2 separate regions of the Homo sapiens genome follow, and region 2 is linked to region 1. Evidence: fine-mapped expression QTL. Tissue or cell type: whole blood. Region 1 holds a variant in brackets; the other region holds the start of a gene. All regions are shown on one strand. Distances are from middle to middle.

The links. PIP is the estimated chance that this variant, and not a neighbour inherited with it, causes the effect.
Region 2: CFDP1 starts here. The variant in region 1 is fine-mapped to the expression of CFDP1 in whole blood (TOPMed, PIP above 0.99).

The regions. Positions count from the first base shown.
Region 1 is chr16:75,289,603-75,297,704 of GRCh38, reverse strand. It overlaps CFDP1 (craniofacial development protein 1), which reads left to right. Exons shown (of 7, transcript NM_006324.3): 7 at 3,663-3,995. The coding sequence ends at 3,753. Among named protein-coding and RNA genes, the nearest start is that of BCAR1, 42 kb to the right of the region's middle. The variant T/C (reference allele first, on the strand shown) is at 3,687.
Region 2 is chr16:75,428,815-75,436,916 of GRCh38, reverse strand. CFDP1 (craniofacial development protein 1) reads left to right here and starts at 3,414. Exons shown (of 7, transcript NM_006324.3): 1 at 3,414-3,628. The coding sequence starts at 3,565. LOC124903723 (tigger transposable element-derived protein 1-like) reads right to left here and starts at 1,713. Exons shown (of 1, transcript XM_047435019.1): 1 at 697-1,713. The coding sequence starts at 1,615. The coding sequence ends at 818. RefSeq lists enhancers at 2,808-3,375, 2,919-3,428 and silencers at 3,739-3,978, 5,235-5,434.

The sequences.
Region 1 (8,102 bases):
TGAAGAGCCTCTTAAATGGGCCACAGAAGGCAATGGAAGCAGAAAGGGATGATGCATCCCCCACCACTAGGCTTCCCTGTGGACTGGGCTGAGTCATGCTGGGCCCCCAAAAGGGCTGCGCACAGGCCAGAAAAGCACCCGGACACATCAAGAGCAAGAGCCGTGATTCCCATTGCACTTGTCCTCAGGTGGGTCTGTTCTGGGACCGTGACCCATTTAAAGTGCATGAAAATGTCCTGAGTCTCAGTGGCCACCTTTGAGGAGGTGGCCTTTCTAATGAGCCCTTCCTCTTTCAGGGACATTTAGTCTCTTGGTCTCTGTTCCGGTTGCCCTGGGTTTTGAGGTTCTGTAGAGGTAAAGTCAAGTCAGAAGAAATGTGAAGCAAGACCGGGCAGAGTGGCTCACGCCTGTAATCCCAGCACTTCGGGAGGCTGAGGCGGGCAGATTACTTGAGGCCAGGAGTTCAAGACCAGCCTGACCAACATGGCAAAACCCCATCTCTACTAAAAACACACACACACACACACACACACACACAGACACACACACACACACACAAGAAATGGGAAGCAAGAACCCCAAGCCCATGACAACTCCCATAGCTATTTTTTGTTTTATTGTATACAAAGCACTTCTCACAGTTTCATTGGATTGCCAGAGGGTTATTGTAATTGTTATTCTGTTTTACAGAGAAGGAAAAAAAGGCACAGAAAATTAAGTATCTTGCCCAAAGTCACACAAAAACTAAATGTCAGAGCTACTGTCATTCTTAGTACCTTTTCTGTCTCTTGGCAGTGGGAGAGTCCATATCAAGTAGTTTTGTTCATGGTCAGCTCTTGGCAGTAAACCAAGGCCGTCACAGGCATCCTGTTAGCAGCTGCAGATGGCTGTGAATTGGGGAATAGTCACCAGACCTGCCTTGATGGCCTTTGTCTGGGTTGCCCTTGAGAATTCAGTTGCATCCTGCACATGTTCCCCTCACTGCTGCCTGAGGCCTCCCTAAACCTAAACTCTGACTGCACCTGCCTGTTTAGCACCCAACCTGGGCTTCACTCTTGATAGTCTCAAAGTCAGCTGGACCCAACACAGCTTCTGGGAACGTGCAGGACCTTTATTCGTACCCAGTTAGCATCCTCATTTAAGTGTCACTTCTTATTTACAGGAAAGTCAGGGCTGGGCCCGATGGCTCTCACCTGTAATCCTAGCACTTGGGAGGCCAAGGTGAGGATCGCTTGAGCCCAGGAGTTCGAGACCAGCATGGGCAACATGGAGAGACCCTATCTTTACAAAAGATTTAAAATTAGCCAGGTGTGGTGGTGTGTGCCTGTGGTCCCAGCTACCTGAGAGGCTGAAGCAGGAGGATTGTTTGAGCCTGAGAGGTCGAGGCTGCAGTGAACTGTGCACCACTGCACTCCAGCCTGAGCCACAAAGCAAGACCCTGTCTTAAAAAAATAAAGTCAGGAAGAAAGACCCCAAATGCTTAAAGCCACATACTTACTCCTTCCCTCCACCTGATCTCCCAGACAGGTAGCACTGGAAGATGGCTCTTGAAACACACCCTAAATTCCTCTTACACCCCCAGGTGAACAACAGCACAGCAAGATCTCATGCTGAGGCTCACCTCTCTTTTTTCTGCTAGCACTTCCAGGGGACAGTTAAAGTGCAGTGCTGTCAAAATCCTGGTCCCCGTGGTAGTGAGCCTCCCTTGGGCTGGTGGGGCTGGGGTGGAAAGATGACCAGTTGTAGTGAACGTGCCTCTGAGACCATTTTGGTTAGCAGCCCCCACTCAAGAATCACGGGTCTCTTAGTGGGAGGTGGGAAGTAAGTTTGTTGTTAGATGTCTACACTTCCCTACCTGTCTTCCCTTTTTCTCTTTTTATCTAAAGGGGTCCATGCTGTCTGCAGCTTCCCTGACTGCCAGGGACTCTGAAGTTCGAATTCAGCCAGGCAGCCTGTAATTTTATTTGTTAAATCTGACAATCCTGACCCCAAGGGCTTTTATCAAACCTAAGAGCAGGCCCTGTCATTGTGTTTCCAGCCATTCTGGCCTCATTGACGGTTTTGACACAGCAGCTTAGTACCTGAGCCAGACCAGGTGTTTTGGTTCCTCATTGCTGAAACCATAAGTCCAGACTTGGGCCATCTACTGTCCTTGGGAGCCTGTTGGAAGCTGGCTTCCTAAAACCATGATAACATTACCTGTCATTTTATTGAGTACCTGCTCTGTGCCCTGTGTGATGTAGACACTATTTTATTTAATCCACACAACAGTCCTTCAGAGTGGAGATGACTAGCCATTATTTATTATCTTTATTACAGATTAGGAAACAGAACTAGCAAGGTTAAGTGACTTGCAGAGTCACAGACAGCAAATGACAGAACTCAAACCTCCAGCCCTCTGGCCTCAGAGCCTGTACATTTCTGGCCAGCCCTCCAGAAGGGTCAGGGTAGTCAGGCCTAGCTGGAAATGAGGTAGGATGGATGGTACTTCCTAGGATGCTGTTGGAAGGGAAAGCAAGGCCCTGGACTCAGCAGGGGAACACAGGTTTCTGAACCTGGTAGCATTCTCACTATAAATGTAATGACTTTGTAATGACAGATGCATATTTTCCACAGTGCAACAAAAGAAAAATTAGTGCAGAGATTCAATTTTGTCTCCCATTTTCCATGGCAATTTTTGCTCTCTCCATAGATTAATTAGCAGCAGAGATCTCCTCCGCCCAGGCAAATCGCAGCACGCTTTATGGTGAGGAGGTGCATTAAGATGCAGCTGTGTCTCATTAAGCAGCCAGCCTCACTCCTAGCAAGCGCGCCTGTGCTTCAGCCCTTGCTGCTTTCCCGTCCTGCCTGGAGGACAGAGGGAAAGTTTGCTGAACCCAACCAGATTAGGGAGCAGAGTGTCCACCTTTCAAGGGGATCCTTGAAAGGAGAGATCAGAGGCCCTTAAACTCATTCTCTTAGAGGCATTTAGGGAAAGAGTTCTCCTGTCATCTTAGCAGAAGCAACCTAGACGCAAACAGGGTGGAGGATACTGCGGAGAGGAGAAAAGGATGAGGGGAAGAAAAGAGCTCAAAGCAGTTAAATCACTTCTAAAGTGTGCACTTTATGAACCTCAGCTCACTTCACCTTCACTGCAGTCCTGTGAGGTCATTTTTACTGTCTTCTTTCCTTCATTACCACATGCCCCCTTTTCATGTTTTGATGTATGTATGCAGGAGGCCTAGCTTTCTCTTACCCACCAATTCAACACACCACTAAAGCCAAGAAAAACAGCATCACCATGCTGCTGTAGAGAAAAGTGAGGCTCAAAGATGTTCATTCCTTTGCCCAGCTAATCAGTGAGCTAGAGCTAGGACTTGAACCCATGCTTGTGTAAACCGGTATTCTTTCTTCTGCCCTTAAAGTCTTGTTAGAAAATTGCAACATCTTCCTGCCACCCAGCCTCTAATATACTTTCTCATTGATAAGCTGTTGCCTTCCTTTTATTTTCACCATCCTTGTTTAGACCAAATGTGAGTGGTTTGGATTGTACTGGAAGAGTCATGGGTGGTCACTCTCGGCACCATTTACTGTAACTTAGTTTATCCCTGGGGGATGGGACTGTGCAGGGGAGGAGTTTTTCCTACTGGATTCTACTGACAAACACTGTTTTCATCTTCTAGGTACATTGAACGGAAAGCCTTCCT[T/C]GACCGAGTGGATCACAGGCAGTTTGAAATTGAGCGAGATCTCAGGCTGAGCAAAATGAAACCTTGATGTTACGGGCTAAATCAAGAGCAGCTTAATCCTGTTTACAATGTGAGCTTTTTGTGCGTCTGTGAAATGTTTTACAGTGTTTCTCATCATCTGTTTCCCAGCAAGGTCTTTTTTTTTTCTACATTGAAGTTCTGTCTATGTATCTTAATCACAAATGGTTTCATTCACTTTACTTTTAAAAATTTGTCCTTAAATGAATAAATAAAATAAAAGTTGGTCCTGTGAGAGGATAATGAAGATGACGACCTCGCTCACCTTCCCTTTATTCTGCCGCAAAGTCCCACCCAGTTCAAGACAGCACATTCCAGGTCTGTCCAGGCTGGCAGAGGTCTTGCCAGGCATGGTGAAGATAGCTGACCAACCTGGGTGTGAATTTTCCGGGGCCAAGAGGCTCTTTCTGCAGCCAGCCTTGCCCCGAAGACCTAGAGGAGGCGGCTCACTAGAGTGACTGGAATGCCAGGCCCCTTCGCAGCTTGTTCTCATTTCCACTCGGGCTTCTCTTCTGATCTCTCTTTCTCCTGAATGGATTCCTACTGATGGCATGTAAGGCTGAAAATAAGGATATATTATTGCTGAATTAGCTGTTTTTTCCCTTCAGCCTTTTTCCTCTTCCCAAAGAAAAGTTAAATTCAGATATGCTCCCACTTCAATAATTCATTAATTTTTAGTTTGTCAAAGAATATTCTGAAGGATTTTCTTTTTTATACTCATAAGAAAATGTAAATTTCAAACTTCCTGCTTAGAGTCAGACATTCTTTGCAGAACAGCAGGGAGGAGAGTAAGAGAGTAACATCTTCAGTGAAGAGGGAAAGAGGGATAGAGACCATTCATATTAATAAGCGGGAAACCCCACAACCTGCTTCTGGTGTGTGTGCCTGCATGTGCATGTGTGTTACCCGAGTACCATGACAGGTTTGGGTGATGACAGGTTACCTAAGACTGCATTCCATTTCTTGCTGTACCAGCTTTGTGGCCCTGACCACAGGTCATTTTTCTGTGCCTCCATTTTCTGGTCTGCAAATGGCATGAATAACACTAGTACCTCCAAGGGGTGGAGTAAGCTAATGACACACCCGTCGGGTGTGAGTACTAGTTTATGGCAGGTCTCCCAATCTAGGCCTCTAATGTGGTGGGAATTCATAGCAACAAAGACCCAACTGTCAACACTAGATGGTTATGGGCTATGGATCTTATTACTCAGAAAGGTAGTTTACAAGCTAAATTTGAACACAATGTCTATTCACATCCCCTCTGATAAATAATTCTAAGTGATTGTAGAGCATTTCAGGCCAGCGTCACAACAGGCGGCCTGCGAGGTCTTAGTTATGGTCCCAAATGGGACATAATAACTGAGGAAGGTGGGCCAGGTGGCTCATGCCTGTAATCCCAGCACTTTGGGAGGCCGAGGCAGGTGGATTGCTTGAGCTCAGGAGTTCACGATCAGCCTGGGCAACATGATGAAACCCTGTCTTCACCAAAAATACAAAAAGAAATTAGCCAGGCATGGTGGTGCATGCCTGTAGTCCCAGCTACTCAGGAGACTAAGGTGGGAGGATCACTTAAGCCCTGGAAGTTGAGGCTGCACTTAGCCAAGATCGTGCCATTTCACTCCGGCCTGGGCAAAAGGAGTGAGACCCTGTCTGAAAAACAAAAAAAGAATAACCTAAGAGCTGCCAATATTTTGATTAGAGGACATCCAGACCTTCAGGAGGTAGCAGCCAAGATTTGATGTGAATGTCCTCCCACATGGTACTCTCTGGCTCATCATCCGTCATTCACCACCATTTGGCAACTGTTTCCCTAACTCTTCTCTGGAGTTCTGAGTCCCTCTTCCATTGCGCTTCACAAAGTTCTTCATCTCAGCAGCCAGTGTCTCAGCAACACGTGAGCTGGCTCTCTCCCTATTTGAAAAATGATCTGAAATCCAATAGAATGAATGGTGCTGAGTTCATAGTAAGTTAGGGTTTTTCTTTTTAGCAAATGTTAACACCTGTGAAGCCTAAGGGATTAAGACAAAAGCTGCAAAGCCTGCTGGGTTCTTCTCACAGGTGGGTTTGCTATTCCTGTTTTGCTCCAAGCCATGAAAGGAGAAGTCAGATGTGTCAGTGAAAGTCGTAACTGTGTGCTTGGGCCCTGCCTTTCTTGTTCAGGATCCAGCCCCCCGCCACAGGTTTTCTCCATCTGTACCTGTGTTAAGTTAATGTCATGATTCTGGAGAAAGGTCGGTTCCTTTCTGCTGTCTGTTGATTGGTGCCCCTTTTCCCAGCAGGGTTGCTGCCCACATCTGACCTCCACACAATCACCCATTACCTCTCCATGAGTCTTTTAGAAAGCCCCTCTAGTCTAGTCTTTTTTGACAGATTCTGGCTGCCTGTCAGGGAATACATGGCTATTTGCATCGATCCTATTACAGGTGCCCTGTTTCCCAATTTGTAGATCCGTGCTTCGGAGTCTCACACTTTCCCACTTTAAACTGTGCTGGTTGCCTTGACTTTAGCTGTCACTCTCTTGGTCTACATGGAACCTCTTTAAAAGCCTCCTGTACTGACCTCACTTCATCTCACTGATAAACCACTTACTCTGACTGATACATGTGCATCTGTATGTATGTATTATGTATACCTGTGTCATCTTACAATGAGGGTTCATATCAGACTTTCATTTATGTCTCACTGGCCATAGCTGGGTCATTGAACTGCCTCTAGCTGTAGGGAAGGCTGGAAAAGTGAGTGTCATGGAAAACAGGCAAGGCAGGGTGGGGAGGTGAGCCCTGGGGGACTGCCCACACTCTCCTAGAACAGCCTGAGCACATCAAAGTCCTTCCTTAGAGCCTCTGACAATTTTTTTTTTTTTTTGAGATGGAGTCTCACTTTGTTGCCCTGGCTGGAGTGCAGTGGTGCAACCTTGGCTCACTGCAGCCTCCACCTCTTGGATTCAAGTGATTTTCCTGCCTCAGCCTCCCAAGTTGCTGGGATTACAGGCGTGTAATCCTGGCTGGATTACACAACCACGTCTGGCTAATTTTTGTATTTTTAGTAGAGATGGGGTTTCACCATGTTGGTCAGGCTAGTCTCAAACTCCTGACCTCAGGTGAACCACCCACCTTGGCCTTCCAAAGTGTTGGGATTACAATGGCCATGAGTGTGGTAGAGGGGACCCTGGTACAGGAAGGAGGTCCTCTCTACCTCCTAAGATCCTGTGCCTGTTTTTCTTTTCTTTCTTTCTTCTTTTTTTTTTTTTTTTGAGACAGGGTCTTGCTCTGTTGCCCAATTAGTGCAGTGGCATGATCATGGTTCACTGTAGCCTCAACCTCTTGGGCTCAAGAGATCCTTTCATCTCAGCCTCCCAAGCAGCTAGGACCACAGGTATACACCACTGCACCCAGCTAACTTTGTAATTTTTTGTAGAGATGGGCATTCACTGTGTTGCCCAGGCTGGTCTTAACTATGCCTGTTTTAACAACTTGGAAACCAAGCTTTGCAGATTCTGACACCTCATCTTCCCAGACTCTGAAGGGCCTCCTCTGGCCCTTTGTTTTTACTCCTTACTGTTGTGGATCAAGTTCAAGGGACAGGAGAACTGGCCAGCAAGAGAGGGTCCTTAGGCATTAGCAGTGGGTATCTACAAATGGGTGGCTGTTTCTTGTAGGTGTAAGCCAGGCCCCAGGAGGCAGGAGTCTTCTCAAGCCCTGCCTGACCATCCCCATGGGCTGGGTGCTGTGGCTGCAGAATGGAGCAGGCCTTTGGCACCAGCCAGTGACCCAGGCAGAGGACCAAGCAGGTGGGTGTCCATGGGGGTGCCTAAGACGGGGATGGACCACTCTTGGGTATTCCTCTCGGTCATCTGTGCTGCCTGAGCCCATCTGTGCCCTCAGTGGGACCTACCTTCTCAGCCAGCATTGCTACCTGTCCCATCCTCTTCCTACCTCATGCTCAGAGGACTGAGCCTCCTCAGCAAATGCCTAGCCTTTCTCAGTGGACCCACCGAGACCAGGCTGGTGGGTGGGACTAATTAAAGTGTGTTTGCCCTCAATCAAGAATCACCTTTTCGGCCAGGCACAGTGGCTCACGCCTGTAATCCCAGTACTTTGAGAGGCTGAGGCAGGCAGATCGCTTGAGGCCAGGAGTTTGAGACCAGCCTGGGCAACATACAGCGAGACCCTATCTCTGCAAAAAATTTAAAAATTAGCTGGACATAGTGGTGCATGGCTGTGATCCCAGCTACTTGGGAGACTGAGGTGGGAGGATCACTTGAGCCCAGGGAGTCAAGGTTGCAGTAAGCTGTGATTGCACCCTTGCTCTCCAGCCTGGGCGACAGAGCAAGACCCTGTCTCAAAAACAAACAAACAA
Region 2 (8,102 bases), 140 kb before region 1:
CATTGAATTAGCAAAAACCGAACCATGGGTCCTGGGAGAAATACAGGGTTAGGTTCCTGTGAACCTCTGGTCAACACTTTTGTCAACTGATCGGTATGTAACTTTGTTTTATGTGTGTTTCTGTTCAAAGACACCTTATTTAATATGTATTTCTTAAAAATAATCTGCAGTATTTACAATAAAATTTCAATGACAGTAGTTTGGTGTAATGTACTCTAGTGTACTGAGATTGCACTACTTTTTTTTTTTGAGTCAGTCTTGCCCTTTTGTCTAGGCTGGAGTGCAATGGCATGGTCTTGGCTCACTGCCACCTCCGACCCCCAGGTTCAAACGATTTTCCTGTTTCAGCCTCCTGAGTAGCTGGGATTACAGGCGCCCACCACCACACCCAGCTAATTTTTCTATTTTTAGTAGAGACAGGGTTTCACCATGTTGGCCAGGATGGTCTTGAACTCCTGACCTTGTGATCCGCCCACCTCAGCCTCCCAAAGTGCTGGGATTACAAGTGTGAGCCACCGCGTCCAGCCTGTACAACCTTTTCATTGGCACACACAGAGTACACACATATAGTTCCCATATACAGTCAACAGTATAACATACTGTACAGTTCCCACAGTAAACACATACACTACTTTGCACACATACTGTATACCCTACAGTACAGCAATACAAATAAAGGGAAAAAGTTCAAAGATGGAGCATCCTAAGTTTTATAAAAATATCAACTAAAATCTTACGGTTGATGGAGCTGCACAATGTGGTTAAACCTCTCGACCTTGGCTTGCCCCACAGAAACCAGGGGAGGGGTGAGTGAAATTTATTCTGCAGAAGAGGAAGAGGGTGGCAGGTCAACCTCTGGCATTTCTACCTTAGGAGTCTGGCTCTTGACACTTGTTGAAGGAGTGGGCAATCTTCCCTCCCAAACTGGCTTGAGAAATTGCATTAGCCTTGCCTGCCTGGCTTTTCTGCCTGAAATCTTTAAGCATCTCGGTATAAGGGGCAAACGCAGTGGAGGCCAGCCATTTAAATTTGAGGCTTCGATCAAGCGTAGGGTCACACTCTTCCATGTCGCTAAAAATTTTTTCCAAGGCAGAACTCCATTCTGATATTTTGGCGCTGTGAGAGGGACAATTCTGGAAGTCTTGGGCCGACTTTCATGGCCATCAACTCCAATGCCTTCTTTTGCCATCTCATCCAGGTCTTCGTTGGTTGGTTCCACTGCCTTCTCTGCCAAAATGTACTCCACATCTCCTTCCTTCACGTCATCAAAGCCCTCTCCACTTACCTGCTGTGCCATATGCATTATGTCTCTGACAGTGTTCTTTATATTTTCTGTAACACCTTCAAACCCTTCAAAATTCTCCACGCAGTCTGGCCAAACATTTTCCCAACAGTTATTGGTAGTAGCCTGACCAATGCTCTCCCAGGCTGTACTGACATAATCAATAACGTTGCATGTAGTGACCGACTTCCAATAGTCCAGCATGGTGGTTTCCTTGTTGGTCCTGAGAGCCTCACAGGCCTTCATATAAAGCTCCCTTGTGTAGTGTGCCTTGAATGCTTTTATTATGCCCCGATTGAGGGGTTGGATGAGAGACTTAGTGTTTGGGGGCATAAAAAGAACTCCTATGTTGGCGTGTGCATTTTCGAGTTCTTTGCAGCAATGGATTGTAGCATTATCCAAAATTAACAAAACCTTGAAGGTGCCCGGCGCGGTGGCTCACGCCTGTAATCCCAACACTTTGGGAGGCCGAGGCAGGCGGATCATGAGGTCAGGAGATCAAGACCATCCTGGCTAACACGGTGAAACCCCGTCTCTACTGAAAATACAAAAAATTATCCAGGCGTGGTAGTGGACGCCTGTAGTCCCAGCTACTCGGGAGGCTGAGGCAGGAGAATGACGTGAACCCGGGAGGCGGAGCTTGCAGTGAGCCGAGATTGCGCCACTGCACTCCAGCCTGGGCGACAGAGCGAGACTCCGTTTCAAAACCAAACCAAAACAAAACAAACCCAAACAAACAAAAAACAAAACAAAACAAAACAAAAAACCCTTGAAGGCAAGGTTTCTGCCCTGGAGACAGTGTTCAGCTTCTGGGATGAAGCAGTTGTGGAACCAATCAGACATCATCCACACTTTTTTGTTCCACCTCCAATAGACTGGCAGATGGTTCACGTATTTCCCGTTAAGTGCTTGTGGATTTTGGGTTCTTTACACCATTAGGAGTTTGCACTTTAGTCGCTCTTGGCATTGGCGCACAATAACAAGGGTGCATGATCCTGGCATGATTTAAAGCCAGGGGCTTTGGAGGCCGTTTGCATTATATAGGTTCGTTTGCCAACATCCTTGTAAAATAAGCCAGTCTCATCCGCATTGAAAACCTGCTCTTTCACATAACCCTTTTCCTGTATAACACTTAGCAAGTATTTTTAAAATTCTTCCGCAGCCTCCTGATCTGCAGAGCTCGCCTCACCTGCAAGTTTAACATTTTTCACCCCGTATCGCCTTTTGAAACGCGCGAGCCGGCCAGCACTCGCCGAGAAGGGCTTAGCATTTCTTTGACTCTGGGTAACGTGACCACAGATATCTTTGGCTTTCAGCCTCACCACAATGCTGTCCACTATGTTTTTTTTAATCGATTGACATCTCATGAATCCACAAATTTAGCCGCTTTTCCATCTTTTCCATCTTTGTCATAGCTTCATCACGCACGATGGAGGTCACTTCAGCACTATCCGGAGCGGCCTCACGGACAGATCGGTGAATTTCCTTTTCCTTTTTCTTGATGTACCGGATTGTCGACTCGTTAACATTGAGCTCATGGCCAACAGCACTGTAACTCATGCCTGATTGGAGCTTATCCAACACGCGGACTTTCTCCGTAAGGCACATCACGGTCTTCTTTCGCTTAGGAACACTGGGCAGAGCTTAAGCACTACGCTTGGGGGCCATTTTAGAAAGCAAAACCACCCACAAAAAGCAGAAAAAAAAGTGTCAGTAAACAGACTGCGGAAAGGACTCTTTGTTTACAGCACAGGAGCTGCGACTAGAAGGCGGCGCTTCTCCCAGTTCAAACTTCAGCTGGGAACCTTACCTCCGCCAACTCCAAATTTTCACCCTCTGCGCATGCCCGGGAAGAACCCCAGACAGTACCGTGATGATTGATTTTAGGGTTACAAATACATTTTAGCAAGTAAGTGAATTTGGCATTACGAATTAATGATTAATGAAGGTCACCTGTATTTCCATAGATATGTAATTTTATTTAAGCAGGTTTATTATATTAAGGCGGCGAGGCAGCGCCGAAGACTACAAGTTCCAGCATGCACCGCGTCCGGGCGGGTTCGGGCTCCCAGCGAGGGCTTCAGGGACGCCAGCCCGGAGGCATCGGCCGGAAGTGTCGTAGGGCAACCACGTAGTACTCTCTGCGCATGTGCAAAGCGCTGTCGGGGGCCGCCCTAGCTGCCGTCGCCGCCGCCGGGGCTCTATGGTCTCTCCCTAGAGCTTTGCCGTTGGAGGCGGCTGCTGCGGTCTTGTGAGTTTGACCAGCGTCGAGCGGCAGCAACATGGAGGAATTCGACTCCGAAGACTTCTCTACGTCGGAGGAGGACGAGGACTACGTGCCGTCGGGTGAGCGATTCCGCCTGAGGCGAGAAGCGAATTGCCCCGCCCCACGCCTCACGTGAGGCGCGCTCTGCCCCCGCGGGCGTCTGCCCTGTGGCCCAGGTGGTCCAGGGGGGCTCCTGTTCTCGAGCGTCCGCTCCCTCAGGCCCCTCATCCTCGGCCGCTCCGGCCCGAGGCGTGTGCGCGTGGCGGTTCTGTGCTCCCCTCCCGTTGGGCAGCTCCGGCCGCCGCCCCCTCTTGCAGCGCGGGAACCGGCACATGGACACGGCCCCTTGTCGCTAGGGACGCTCGTCGGTCAGCCCCGAACGACACCGCTGCTTCAGAAGTCGGGGCGGCAGTCCGAGCCTTGGAGGTTTTTTTCAGCCCTGGCCCGAGAGAGCTGCTGGCCACCACCCCGTCCAAGATAGAGCTGTCCGCTCTCCGCCTGGTTGTTAGAAAGTTCTGATAGAAAGTTCCCCCTTTGATGCTTTTTGCCTCATTGTGACGTCCACCCATCCTCTCCTCTCAGAACTTTCTTTCCTTAGGGATCTCAACCCGAACGGGGTGAGAATGAATCTTACTGAAGAAATCTTTCTGTTCCCCCTTCTTGGTCTTCCCCAGACAAACCGTCTCGTTGAAAGTATCTTCACCCATTCACATCTTCAGTTGAAAGACTAGACAAACAAGAAACAAACAGACTAACAAAACACAACCCAGGAGTCGTCCCTATTCTCTTTGTTTTACTTTGTTCTGTTCTGTTTTATTTAAAGACAGGGTCTTGCTGTTGTCTAGGCTGGAGTGCAGTGATGCGATCTTGGCTCACTGCAACCTCAGACTCCTGGGCTCAAGCGATCCTCCCGTCTCAGCCTCTGGAGTAGCTGGGACTGCAGGTGCAGGCTGCCACGCCCGCTAATTTTTTAAATTTTTTTTTTTTTTTTTTTTTTTAGAAATGGCATCTTGCTATGTTGCCCAGGCTGGTCTCGAACTCGTGGGCTCAAGTGATCCTCCCACCTCAGCCACCCAAAGTGCTGGGATTACAGGCATGAGCCACCGCGCCCCGGCTAGTGAAGTATTTCTAAAAGGCACGTTGAAAACTAGCCATTCCATTCCTGGCGCGGTGGCTCATGCTTGTAATCCCAACACTTTGGGAGGCTGAGGTGGGTGGATCACAAGGTCTGGAGATCGAGACCATCCTGGACAACATGGTAAAACCCCGTCTGTACTAAAAACACAAAAATTAGCTGGGCATGGTGGCACGCGCCTGTAGTCCCAGCTCCTCAGGAGGCTGGAGCAGGAGAATCGCTTGAACTCGGGAGGTGGAGGTTGCAGTGAGCCGAGATCACACCACTGCACTCCAGCCTGGGTGACAGAGCGAGACTCCGTCTCAAAAAAAAAAAAAAAAAAGTTAGCCAGTCCCATCACCCTCATCCCTATTTTATTTAATATTCCTCAGGAGAAACTTCTTTCCACCTTTTGAATTTGGTATTATATTTCTGTTGTCTATTGATTTAACCCATGTATAGTAGGTATCATTTTTAGTAGCCCCTGACCTCCTTCCCCTCATCCCAAACACACACACAAACACTTCCACCTTCGGGGCCTCCCCAACTCCGTAGTCTGCCGTTGAACCTGTGTCCAGTTTTAGTTAGATCAGTATTCAGTGTTTTTTTTTCTTTCGAGACAGTGTCTCGCTCTGTGGCTCAGGCTGGAGTGCAGTGGCACAGTCTCTGCTTAATGCGGCCTCTGCCTTCCCGGTTCAAGCAGTTCTGCCTCAGCCTCCTAAGTAGGTGGGATTACAGGCGCCCGCCAGCACACCCGATCGATTTTCTTTTCTTTTCTTTTTTTTTTTTTTTTTTTTTTTGAGACAAGAGTTTTGCTCTGTCTCCCAGGCTGGAGTGCAGTAGCGGGATCTCGTCTCACTGCAAGCTCTGCCTCCCGGGTTCACGCCATTCTCTTGCCTCAGCCTCCTGAGTAGCTGGGACTACAGGTCCCCGCCAGCACACCCGAATGATTTTTTTGTATTTTTAGTAGAGACGAAGTTACACCATGTTGGCCAGGCTTGTTTCAAACTCCTGACCTCAAATGGTCTGCCCGCCTCGGCCTCCCTGAGTGCTGGGATTACAGGCGTGAGCCACCGTGCCAGGCCCAGTGTTTTTTTTTTCTAATGACAGTGTGAATAAACATCATGTTGACAGCTGAACCGTATGTTATACAGATTACTTTTCCTGCACTTCTTGTTTTCTCTGGTGCTAATAATTGCCATTTTTTGTTGCTACTTAGCTGTCTATGTACTTAACTGCTGTAAACCAAAAATAAAATTCTAAGGCGCCCCCAACCATCTGAATGGACTTCCTCCTTAGCCAGGGCTCTTTAACATTTAACCTGAGAGACTGTTTTGGGCCATGATGGGAAGTGGGGGCTGAACCTGCCTCATTGTATGTCTCTGACATTAACATCGATGCAGACTTTAAGTCTGATAATAAACATTTTGCAACCTATTCTCTCTGAAGCCTGTCTGCTAAAAGCTTCATCTGTATGATAAAACTGTGTTCTCAGCCGAGCAGTGGCTCGAGCCTATAATCCTATCACTTAGGGAGGCAGAGGCTGGTGGATCATTTGAGGTCAGGAGTTCAAGACCAGCCTGGCCAACGTGGTGTAACCCCATCTCTACTGAAAATATGAAAATTAGCCAAGTGTGGTGACGGGCGCCTGTAATCCTATCTACTGGGGAGGCTGAGGCACGAGATCTCTTGAACCCAAGAGGTGGGGGTTGCAGTGAGTGAAGATCATGCTTCTGCACTCCAGCCTGGGTAACAGAGCAAGACTCCATTTAAAAAAAAAAAGTGGCCAGGTGCGGTGGCTCACACCTTTAATCCCAGCACTTTGGGAGGCTGTGGTGGGCGGATTGCCTGAGGTCAGGAGTTGGAGACCAGTCTGGCCAACATAGTGAAACCCTGTCTGTACTAAAGATATAAAAAAATAGCTGGGTGTGGTGGCGTGTGCCTGTAATCCCAGCTACTCCGGAGGCTGGGGCAGGGGAATTGCTTGAACCAGGGGCGTGGGGTTGCAGTGAGCTGAGGTTGCGCCACTGCACTCCAGCCTGGGCAACAGAGTGAGACTCCATCTCGAAAAAACAAACAAACAAACAAAAAAAACCTCTGGTCTCCACAACCTCTATCTTAACCCAGACATTCCTTTCTGTTTAGGCAAACTCAACCTGTTGCCAACAAGAAAATTTTTAAATTTACCTGTAGCCTGGAAGCACTCCCACCCCGAGTTGTCCTGTCTTAATGGACCAAACCAGTATATTTCTCAAATGTATTTGATTGATGTCTCATGCCTCCCTAAAATATATAAAACCAAGCTGCACCCCAACCACCTTGGGCGCGTGCTCTCAGGACCTCTTGAGGGCTGCATCATGGGCTGTGGTTACTCATATGTGGCACAGAATAATTCTCTTCAAATACTTGACAAGAGTTTGACTCTTTTCGTCGACACTGCTAATTTGACTCTAAACTTTTAGAATTGTATAAATCATCTCCCAAAATATTTACATTCATTAGATTTTCACTTTAATCTTCTGAAACAGTCTTTGCCTTCTGGCCTCCACTTTGTCTTGGTTACCTTCTATGAGTACTCCAGTGTATTTACTTATTTATTTAGAGATAGAGTCTTGCTCTTGTCGCCCAGGCTGGAGTGCAGTAGCGTGATCTTGGCTCACTGCAACCTCCACCTCCCGGGTTTGAGCGATTCTCTTGCCTCAGCCTCCCAAGTAGCTTGGATACAGGTGCCCACCACCACACCCAGCTAATTTTTGTATTTTTAGTAGAGACGGGGTTTCACCATGTTGGCCAGGCTGATATTGAACTCCTGACCTCAGGTGATCCGCCCTCCTCAGCCTCCCAAACTGCTGGGATTACAGGCGTGAGCCACCACGCCTGGTCAGGAACATTCTTATGAGACCTTGAATGCCTAAAAGTAACCATGCCCCTCAGGCGTAATTGATTGTCTGTTTGAATTCTAGGTTGGAAATAATTTTCCATCAGAATTTTAAAGTGTTACTTCATTACTTTCTAGATTCCCATGTTGCTATTAATAAATATTTTGTTACTGATTTCTGCTCAATGTATAAGATCTGTTTGTCTCCGGAAGCTGGTAGAATATTCTCTTTGTTCCCATTTTCTTTTTTCTTTTTTTTCGAGACAGACTCTGTCTCTCTTGTCCAGGCTAGAGTGCAGTGGTGGCATCTAGGCTCCCTGCAACCTCCACTTCCCGGGTTTAAGCAACTCTCCCACCTCAGCCTCCGGAGTGGCTGGGACTACAGGTTCATGCCACCACGCCTGGCTAATTTTTGTATTTTTATAGTAGAGACGGGATTTCACCATGTTGGCCAGCCTGGTCTCGAACTCCTGACCTCATGATCTGCCTGCCTCGGCCTCCCAAAGTGCTGGGATTACAGGCGTGAGCCTCTACGCCTGGCCTGTTCCCATTTTCTAATATG